Regions from separate parts of the Homo sapiens genome. Here region 1 is linked to region 2. Evidence: fine-mapped expression QTL. A gene starts in region 2. The other region holds a variant in brackets. All regions are shown on one strand. Distances are between the middles of the regions. Region 1 overlaps COMMD1 (copper metabolism domain containing 1). Region 2 holds the start of FAM161A (FAM161 centrosomal protein A).

What was found. PIP is the estimated chance that this variant, and not a neighbour inherited with it, causes the effect.
Region 1: its variant is fine-mapped to the expression of FAM161A in unexposed skin (GTEx, PIP above 0.99). The same link has a PIP of 0.9 or more in pituitary.

What each region holds. Positions count from the first base shown.
Region 1 is chr2:61,966,363-61,971,362 of GRCh38, reverse strand. All of the region lies in intron 1 of COMMD1 (copper metabolism domain containing 1), which reads right to left. Among named protein-coding and RNA genes, the nearest start is that of COMMD1, 63 kb to the right of the region's middle. The variant A/C (reference allele first, on the strand shown) is at 2,220.
Region 2 is chr2:61,851,440-61,856,972 of GRCh38, reverse strand. It overlaps FAM161A (FAM161 centrosomal protein A), which reads left to right and starts at 2,913. Exons shown (of 7, transcript NM_001201543.2): 1 at 2,913-3,114. The coding sequence starts at 2,932. It also overlaps the pseudogene RPL31P30. RefSeq lists enhancers at 1,720-1,769, 2,510-2,739, 2,980-3,139, 3,300-3,429.

The DNA.
Region 1 (5,000 bases), 110 kb before region 2:
TTAAAAAATCAAACGTTTAGCCAACCGGGATTAGTTTAGATTGTACAACCCAACCGTAGCAAATGAGGAAAGGGTGCAGGGGCAGGACTTGCATCAGGAATAAAGGCTCTCACGCCCCTTTATTCAGGTGTGCTCTCACGGCAACCAGCCAAGGAGGCACCCCTCTGCGCAGAAGTAAAATTGTTTTGCTAAAAATCCTTTGTTCGAGTGTTCAATTTCCTTAGGATTTTGAGCGCTATCCCTAACAACAATATAGCAAAACTCTGTCTTTACAAAAAATGCAAAAATTAGCCGGGCATGGCGGCACATGCTTGTAGTCCCAGCTACTCCGGAGGCTGAGGTGGAAGGATTGCTTGAGCCCAGGAGACAGGGGGCCACAGTGAGCAGTGATCGCACCACTGTACTGAAGCCTGGGCAACAGGGACCCTGTCAGAAACAGACAAACAAAAAAAACAAATACTGGGGACATGAATTCTATGACCAAATATAACAGATAAATTAATGCAGCCTAATAACTTGCAACTCTTTTTTAACAAACTAGATAAAATATTGTCAAGGAAATAACTTCTAGAATATCTTATTGATCCAAATACAAGACAACCTGGAGTTTAAGTAATCCAATTTTTCCAAGAAAGAAAAAAAATTAATCATAGGAAATATTCTTTATCATGGTATTTCTAGTAAGTCATATACAGTTGGCCCTCTGCATCTGTGAATTCCACATCTAGGAATTCAACCATCTGAGGGCCAAATATTCAAAATAAAAATCTGTGTCTATAATAAACATGTACCAAACTTTTTTTTATCATTATTCCCTAAACAATACAGTATAACAAGTACTTATGTAGCATTTGTTGTTTTACGTATTATAAGTAATCTAGAGATTATTTAAAGTATATGGGAGAGTGTATTTTGGTTATATGCAAATACCACACTATTTTATATCAGAGACTTGAGCATCTGAGGATTTTCGAGATCCTAGAACTAATTCCCCATGGACACCAAGGGACAACTGTATATCCTTTTTAATAATTTTTTAAAATGCAGAAAACTCTTATCCACAAATAATATATTTATCATTATTCTTTTTTTTTTTTTTTGAGGTGGAGTTTCCCTCTTGTTGCCCAGGCTGGATGGAATGCAGCGGTGTGATCTCAGCTCACTGAGACCTCCACCTCCCAGGTTCAAGCGATTCCCCTGCCTCAGTCTCCCAAGTAGCTAAGATTACACGCGCCCACCACCACACCCAGCTAATTTTTTGTATTTTTACTAGAGATGGGGTTTCATCATATTGGCCAGGCTGGTCTCGAACTCCTGACCTCAGGTGATCCACCTACCTTGGCCTCCCAGAGTGCTGGGATTACAGGTGTGAGCCACTGTGCCCAGCGCTATGATTATTCTCATTCTGCTTGGAAATAACTCTTTTTCCACTTACATCGGAGGTTTTTAATATTGCAAGAAAAAAAACATATTGCTGGATTGTACCAAGGAAGTTGTTTGAATAAAGGATAGTTATTTCTTCAGTGACTAAGTTATAGCCAGGAAGAAAGAATGACTGGAAATTCAATACTACAATACCTGAGACATAAATATTTGCTTCTCCAGTCACTTAATGGGAACCAGTAATTAAGAATATCAGAAAGCTATGCACTTCTCCAATTTCCATCAAGTAAGTGAACTGGAACACATCACACAGATTTAAATTAATCATCACTTATGAAGAAAACAGACTGACAAGCACATAAAGCTACCAAGAACTAACAACAGTTCAATTACCACAAAAAATACTCACAGTAACCAAAAACAAATCTGTACTTGTCAACAGTTCTGTCAAGTTTCCAAGAACGTGCTATGTCATAATGTGTAGATGTGTTCTTTAGTGGAGCTTATAAAATATACAACACTGCCAAGTTGAAAGCACAATTAAATTAAGACCTTGAGAAAGTAAAAGCAATTTGCCTCTGGTGACTATTGTTAGTAATGAGTCTTAAAGAGAATGTTTTTTTAATCCTGATTTATGCCATCAGAATTTCTTCCTCGAAAAATATAAATTTATATAATTAAAGATCAAATGCCACGTCAAAAAAACTTGTATTTCTATAGCCTGCAGAATAAAAATTACATAATGATCTAAAGCAAGTGAAACTGTCCAAAAGAGTTTAGGTAAATAAGTATTTTATAAAGCTCTTAAACATTTTCTTGTTTGAAAACAAACAAAC[A/C]AAAAAAACCTACATATAAAAGCCAGATGTGGTGGTGTGCACCTGTAGTCCCAGCTGCTCAGGAGGCTGAGGCAGGAGAATCACTTGAGCCCAGGAGTTCAAGGCCACGGTGTGCCATGATTGTGCCTATGAATACCCATTGCACTCTATCCTGGGCAACACAGCAAGATCCTGTCTTTAAAAAAAAAAAAAAAAAAAGACTAAATAAAGATTTCCCTTGAAACTGGTTTCGTTACTGAGAATCAAATCTCAAATTGTTTATGCCATTATTTTAAGTAAAAACTGAGGCCAGGCACGGTGGTTCATGCCTGTAATCCCAGCACTTTGTGAAGCAGAGGCAAATGGACTGCTTGAGCTCAGGAATTTGAAACCAGCCTGGGCAACATGGAGAAATCTCAACTATATAAAAAATACAAAAAATGAGCCAGGCATGGTGGCATGCACCTGTGGTGACAACTACTGGAAAGGCTGAGGTAGGAGGATCACTTGAGCCCAGAAGGCCAAGGCTGCAGTGAGCCAAAATTATACCATGGGACTCCAGCCCAGCAACAGAGTGATACCCTCCCTCCCTCCCCTCCATCAAGAAAAGGAAAATGGTCCAAAACTCTAAGTAGATATAGTCCAAAAAGAAAAGCAAACTGATTTTGTCCTTTCTTTTCACCTTCAGTAAATTTGTGAAATGTGATTTACTGTACAATTAATTATAGTATGGTTTTACTGTTTCAAATGTATTCTCTGGGCTTCAATTTCCCTAAAATTAAGCAAAGAGAATTTGCTATATGAGCTGCATGTGCCCCCAAGTAATTACATTCCATATTGCTATATCTGTAGGTTGAGCCATATAAATACAACAGTATTCAACTGTTTTGGACTCACAAGTATGCTAATTTCAAATGGTTCAACCTTACTAAATCTCTTAAATTTTATTTTCCCCTATAGACTATGTTTGGCACCAAGCGGCTTTTGTTTTCTTTTTTTTTTCTGAGAGGGAGTCTCACTGTGTCACCCAGGCAGGAGTGCAGTGGCACAATCTTGGCTCACTGCAACCTCTGCCTCCTGGGTTCAAGCAGTTCTCCTGCCTCAGCCTCCCAAGTAGCTGGGATTACAGGCACACGCCACCACGCCCGGCTAATTTTTGTATTTTTAGTAGAGATAGGGTTTCATTGTGTTGGCCAGGCTGGTCTCGAACTCCTGACCTCAGATGATCTGCCAGCCTTGGCCTTCCAAAGTGCTGGGATTATAGGCATGAGCCACCACACCCAGCCTATTTTCTTAAAATAGAGCAAAATGTTTAACATTATTATGAAAGCCAGTGATGAGAGCCAGTTCTCAATTGACATTCAGGACTGAATACACTTTATCAGACATTTTTTAAAGCAAAGAAAAAGATGATACTCTGATATGGAAACCCTCCTAAATTACTATTAATATTTCACAATTCATATTTTGGAATACTCGCAGAATTTGTACTAGCCCATTCAGCTTTATGATCCCACTTATTATCAGCTTATAGTCTGTGGCCTAAGTTATAGTTTTCACCACCTGCCTACTATGTATCAGGCCCTGTCCCAATCCTTCAAATAAGATGAACAGCATATGGACCTGCTTTTGAAGAGCTTTCAATCTGGTTATGTAAACAAGAGCTCAACATCCTTGGCTTTCCTGATTTGCTAGAAAATCTAGAGCAATGCTACCCAAAGTATGGTCTACATATCAGTGCCAGACCACAAACTTCACTACCAGTCCACCATGAGGTAATTATACAAACTGAAAGTAAATATTTAGAAACTTTCATGGAAAAATGACTATTTTTATGTCAATTAACCTAATAAAATAATCGGATTGTATGTTTTTATGTATTTTTGGTGAGGAATTGAACATTTTTTTAAAAAACAAAACTGGTCCTCAACAGACTGCTTCTTAAATGTAAGAAGCACTGCTGTGAAGGTAGACAGATTGGACAGTTCTGCTATCTTTGCAACTTAGCTCTTCTGCATTTGAAAGTTAAAATATTCGTTTCATATTAGACTTCATCAACTGGCCCCATTTCCACTATAATAAAGATCCTGGTTACATTTGATAAGGGAAAAAGGACACCAAGAAGAAAATAAGATGCTGGCTATGGAAGTCAGGAAGATAAAAGTTACTAAAAATAAGAAAAGAGAAAAAATGTTACTGCTCTTCATGGAAGAGAAAGGAAAATACTTCAAGTTGACGGTAAATTTTTAAAAACCACTGTTGTGTATGCCCGGGTCTTCTTAGATAAATAGAAGCCTTATTATTTTATCACAGGTGGCAAAAACAGGACTAATTACACAGACTTTTAATTTCCCAACTTACATTTAACAATTAAATCTTTTAATTTCCCAACTTACATTTAACAATTTTCAATTTAACAATTTGAAAATACCAAGAGAAGGAAACTGTAGCCAAAAGAAGAGTTATGGAGTAGATAGGCAACTTCATTTCTCACAAGTCTGTGTAATTAGTCCTCTTTTTGCCACCTGTGATAAAATAATAAGGCTTCTATTTATCTGATGACCTAGGACATTACTAGAGCCTTTATACATGAAGTCCAACTTTGTTTCATTTGGCACAGCTAAAAATAGAAGTGAAATGAAATACATTTTAAAGGCAAATTCATATTTCCTATTATTAGATTTAATATACAACCAACTAGTGTTTCAATTGGGTATTACTGCCATATTCTGCATGCTAATTTAACAAATTTACATATTTTAAAAAAAAGAAATTTATTTGGTTTCGTAAGTAAAATCTGGC
Region 2 (5,533 bases):
CATCCTTGTTATGTTTTCTGAACAATCGCACATGTACATGGTGTGGGACATTCCTTATTCCTTTGGCCCTGATAGCCTTGTTAAGCCTGGTATCAATGCACACATCTGGAGTGCCCATCTTCATGGCAAATTTCTGAATCTCTTTGAATGCCCACAGAGCATGCTTCTTGAAGCCCACTCCATGGATGTGAGCTAGTGACCCAAGTGTGTTCTTGGGTCACTACCTTGTTGATGGCAGAACAGCTCATCTTCTTGCCACCCTTCTTTGCAGGAGCCATTCTGCCAGGCCCAAGATGGAAAGGAAGAACATGAGGGACGGTGGGAGAAAGAAGGCCTAAACTTTTAAAAAGTGGCTGCACCATTTTACATTTAAGACATTTTGACACATTGTATTTTTGTTGTTATTTGACTCTCTAGATAATTTCTGCCATGACTTTTTCTGTAATGCACAAATTGTTTTTTGAAGAGTTTTAAATTTCCCAACTAAAAAGGCTTTTCTAGTTATTTTTCTTTTATAATGTCTAACTTGGCTGGGCGTGGTGGCTCATATCTGTAATCCCAGTGCTTTGGGAGGCCAAAGCAGGCGGATCACCTGAGGTCAGGATTTTAAGACCAGCCTGGTCAACATGGTGAAACCCTGCCCTCTACTAAAAATACAACATTTGCTAGGCGTGTTGGCAGGCACCTGTAGTCCCAGCTATTCGGGAGGTTGAGGCAGGAGAATCGCTTGAACCTGGGAGGCGGAAGTTGCAGTGAGCCGAGATCACGTCACTGCACTCCAGCCTGGGTGACAAGGAGACTCCATCTTAAAAAAAAAAAAATTGTTTTGTTAATTACAATAAATTATGTCAAAAACAAAGATAATTTCTTAAAACTCTTCACTTTCTTTTATGTTCCTTGCATCTACTGTATCTGTATGGTGGAAATACTATATAATGGTGTGCTACTAGACATCTTTTCTCAAATTCTTATTAAGTGATGTCACATTGGTGGCTTGAAATTGGCTATGATGGGAATATTGACATCATGGAAATCAGCAAAAGCTAAACATTGGACATTTAAACTTAAGAAACGGATGTGGAAAATATTAATGCAGAGTAAACTTAAAAGTTTGTGTTATCTGTAGCCTTTACATTGTGACTTGCAGAAAAAATTAAGAAAAATTATTCCAGTGTTAGAAAATGATTATCTATTTCAGCAAAGAAGTTGCTCATAACATTGACAAGTGAAATTCTGACATAGATCTTGGATATGTCACTCTCATCTTAATCACAAATAAAAACAAAAATATTAACCAACATTCATGTTGGAACTAGGTTGTTAAACAATTGCAACCATAAGTTGGCCACAAATACAGGAGTACAGCATAAACCAACGAAAGCATTCTGAGAGAAGCAATTGTCTATGAGGAATTTACAGTAAAGAGAATAGGATATTTCATTATTTATAATTCATCTGCTATAATTCCTTATCAATACTTTTGTTGGTGGTGGTGGTGGTGAGACGGAGTCTTGCTTTATTGCCCAGGCTGGAGTGCAGTGGCGCCATCCCGGCTCACTGCAACCTCCGCCTCCCGGGAGTGCGCCTGTAATCCCAGCTACTCCGGAGGCTGAGGCAGTTTTGTAGCCACAAAACTGGCTGCCGTGTCTGACTGGAAATTGCTCCCCTGGAAACTTGGCCACACCTGGCGGTGCATATCTCATGGTTCTGGCTCTGGCTTCTGCTTAGAACCCAGTCAGCATCTGTTCCAGCATGGGAAGCAACTGTTCAGCTAAAACCAAGAGCAGCCTGAAGGAAGTGGGGACGTAGGAGACTTTGTAGGTGCTCACACCCAGACAGGAGAACAAAGGTTTGGTAAGGGCTCAGACCTTAGAGACGGGTTCTCGACGATGTGCAGCGCATAACGAGGAAAATACTGACCGGAGGGGGCCGGTCGTAGGGCTGGGGAGCAGGAGGAGGGCAAAGGATAGAGAGGGGGTAGATAGGGAGTAGATAGGGGGCGGCAGCCTCGGCCTCAGTAAGCAGGGGCTCAGGGAGCAGATGTCTGAGACTGCACCACGTCCGCTATTTTGAGGTTTGGCTTCTCTTACTGCCACGTGGTGCAGAGGGAAGGCGCCATTTGATGCGTCCAAATCCCGAGTGGGAAGAGAAGATACGGATGAGGGAGATGGATGTGTCTGTGGTGACTCTTGGGCACTTGTGCCGTTCAATCCTGTCACTCTCAAGCTGAAGAACCCAAAGCAAACGCCAGGTTTACAATACCTGCACTATCACTCATTAGTGGGAGGGTCAGGCGCCACCCAACTCTGGGCTTTTATTGGTCATGTCAAGAAAAAAGCGAGAGGGACAACTGGGAGCCTCCTTCTGATTGGTGGATTCCTGCTAGCCCTCAAGTCAATCAGAGTAGAATGTACCGCCCTCCTTCCCACTCTGGCCCCCGCGGGAGACATGTTAGGTAGCGGGACGCCAACCTTGTCACTCTTCTGAGACCGCCACCCAGTAACACGCCCTGCTTTCCTCCGCCGCCGCCGTCTCCTCCATCAACTGTCTCCTTCTAACATGTTATTGCAGTTAATAAAAAAGCGTTCTTTTCTTCACAAAAGCAGTTGTTTCATTGTATAATGTGAGAAGTCTGCGTTCAGGCGGTTAGACGCAAAGGAGTGGAATAAGTGCCCTGTTCAGCCTGCCAACCTTCGGAACCAGCCAACAGACTCGGTACTGACTGCCATGATCCAGTAAGCACCCGACTCGGGTCTCTGGCAGCCTGAGTGGATTTTGCGTGACTTTTGGTCCCTGGCGGCTCCTGTAGCGTCCCCAGTTACGGCGCCCATAGCAACCGGCTCCCTAGCTAGGCGCCCCCGGGTTGCCAGGGGCCGCACCAGCTTTCCCGTCCCGGGCCAGCGCAGGCGCTCAGGCCTCGGAGGCGGGGCGATGGCCACCTCCCACCGAGTGGCGAAGCTGGTGGCCTCCAGTCTCCAGACCCCGGTAAATCCCATCACTGGAGCGCGGGTCGCCCAGTACGAACGCGAAGACCCCTTAAAGGCCCTGGCGGCAGCGGAGGCGATCTTGGAGGACGAAGAGGAGGAGAAAGTGGCTCAGCCCGCTGGGGCATCGGTAATACTGGGGCGGGACTTGGGCTGGGACCTCGCATGGGCTGGGTGCAGGCTGAGGGCTGTCCGGTTCCCCGCCCAGCTGAGGGCAGGCTGGTAAACGCGGGTCCCTGTGCACATAGTCCCTACTTGGTGGTCCTGGCCCAGCCCCTTCTCTACGCTCACGAAAATTACTCTAAATCGAGGCGTTGAAAAGTGTTTTAATTTTCACCAGTCTGTTGTAAAAGCTTCCTAGACAACATTTATGTTACTCTGCTTCTGGCAAGTGCAAAGTATAGAATTTTACTCTCTACTCTCCAGCATCTCGGGAATGGATATATAGAGATATATCTGGCTATATATAGTAATTTGAGGAAAACTGTTCTGTCAGGTGTGTTTCGTTATTACCTTAAGATCTTGGTTATAAGCGGATCTCAACATAGTGCTCTAAAGATGTGTGTTTAAAACCATCACGTGTTCACTGGCTAAATCAGACACGGATACAGATAAGCAAATCACTGAGGTTTCAGTGTTTCCTAAACAGCTCTTTAGGGTACAGCGAGACGGCCTTTTCACTGATCAGTTTTCATTGTTAAATCTGTTGTGGACACCAGTCCAGCAGGTAGAGGGCAGGGTCTGCCATCTGCTCAATTCACTTAAAAGATGGGAATCTTGGCCGGGCGCGGTGGCTCGTGCCTATAATCCCAGCACTTTGGGAGGCCGAGGTGGGCGGGTTACGAGGTCAGGAGTTCGAGACCAGCCTGACCAACATGGTGAAACCCCGTCTGTACTAAAAATACAAAATTTAGCCGGGCGTGGTGGTGCGCCCCTGTAATCCTAGTTACTCGGAAGGCTGAGGCAGGAGAATCGCTTGAACTTGGGAGGTGAGGGTTGCAGTGAGCTGAGATCTCAGACCCAGTCTCAAAAAAAAAAAAAAAAAAAAAAGATGGGAATCTTGAATTTAAACTAGCAATCTGCAGATAGAAAAAATTTCCTAATACCATGTGTCCAAAGCTTCTCAGACACCAAACTTATGATTGAGGACTAACTGAAATCACTGGATATTTTGGAATTCTGATCTCTTTAATCTACAGTAAAATTGTTAATGAGAACATCTTTAGCAACACCTTTTGTGACCAATCTTTCACCAACAGACAAACAACTTGAAGTTATCCAGAGTAAGGCAGACTGAGACCCTGAACATGAACCAGGATCAGAGTGCTAGGACCGATTTTGTTCATGATGAAGCTACCCCTCAACACAATTTTCAGTAGGCAACAAGGCAACGTGATGGAGAAAAAGGATTGAAGAGTTCTGTATTAGGATCCATTCCCTGCCACTTCCTAGGTGGTGTTAGGACATAATTTCCTTAAACCTCAGTTTCCTTATCTGTAAAATAACTATAATAATTGTCTCTTTTTTCCCATCTCAGCTCTATGAGAACCAAATGAAAGAATGTGTGTCTCCTCTAAAGAGCAATCTATGTAAATGAGTTGCCAGTGGGAGTGTCATTTGTGTGCCTTCCCAAAGATTAAACTCAACTTTGGCTTGCTGTGGTAAAGGAGTCAGTCACTTCTAAGTTGCAGATATGCTTCCACAGTGCCCTGTTAAACTGCAAATTTGTGTTAGAAACTGTTATTACCTTAGGAGGGATCAGTTTATACAATAATCTAGTTTGGAAAGGACAGGATCCTACAAAAAAAAAAAGGAAGCCAAGTCTTAAGAGTTTGGTACTGTTCTGAGACCACCACACATGAGGGATCCAAAAGTAAAGCTGGGTAAGCTGCCACAGTGGGCCTGATAGCCAGGGGGCACAGGCTGGGGGAAGAGGCATTAAGAAGGCAGGAAGAGTGCAGGAAATAGGCTCTGCTTTCTTCACTGGTTGGCTTGGGTCTCCATCTTGATTTTTAAAGGTTAATTTGCCTTAACCTTATTATCTATAAAATGTAGTAAAGTCAAATATTATACCTAACCCACAAGATTGATTTGAGAACCACCCATCACAATAGGCCTCTTTCAGCTCTTTGGTTTTGCCAAAGCCAGACCACTCATCCCACCCCACACTGCCCCCCAACCCCCCAACCCCTGCACCATCCCTATACACCCTCCCAGCTCTGGCATACACACGCACCCCCCTTGCAGTGCCCATATTGGGCACTGATGCCTGTTCCTTGAATCTAGCCTTAGTCAGAGATGTTGGTCCACATATCCTGTTATATGACTGATGATGACACAGGTAACGCAGTATTCTGTAATTCGCAATTAAAATCTCACTCCTCCCAGCACTTTGGGAGGCTGAGGCAGGTAGATCACTTGAGGTCAGGAGTTTGAGGCCAGCCTGGCCAACATGGCAAAACCCGGTCTCTACTAAAAATACAAAAAGTAGCCGGACGTGGTGGCACGCGCCTGTAATCCCAGCTACTAGGGGGCGCTGAGGCAGAATT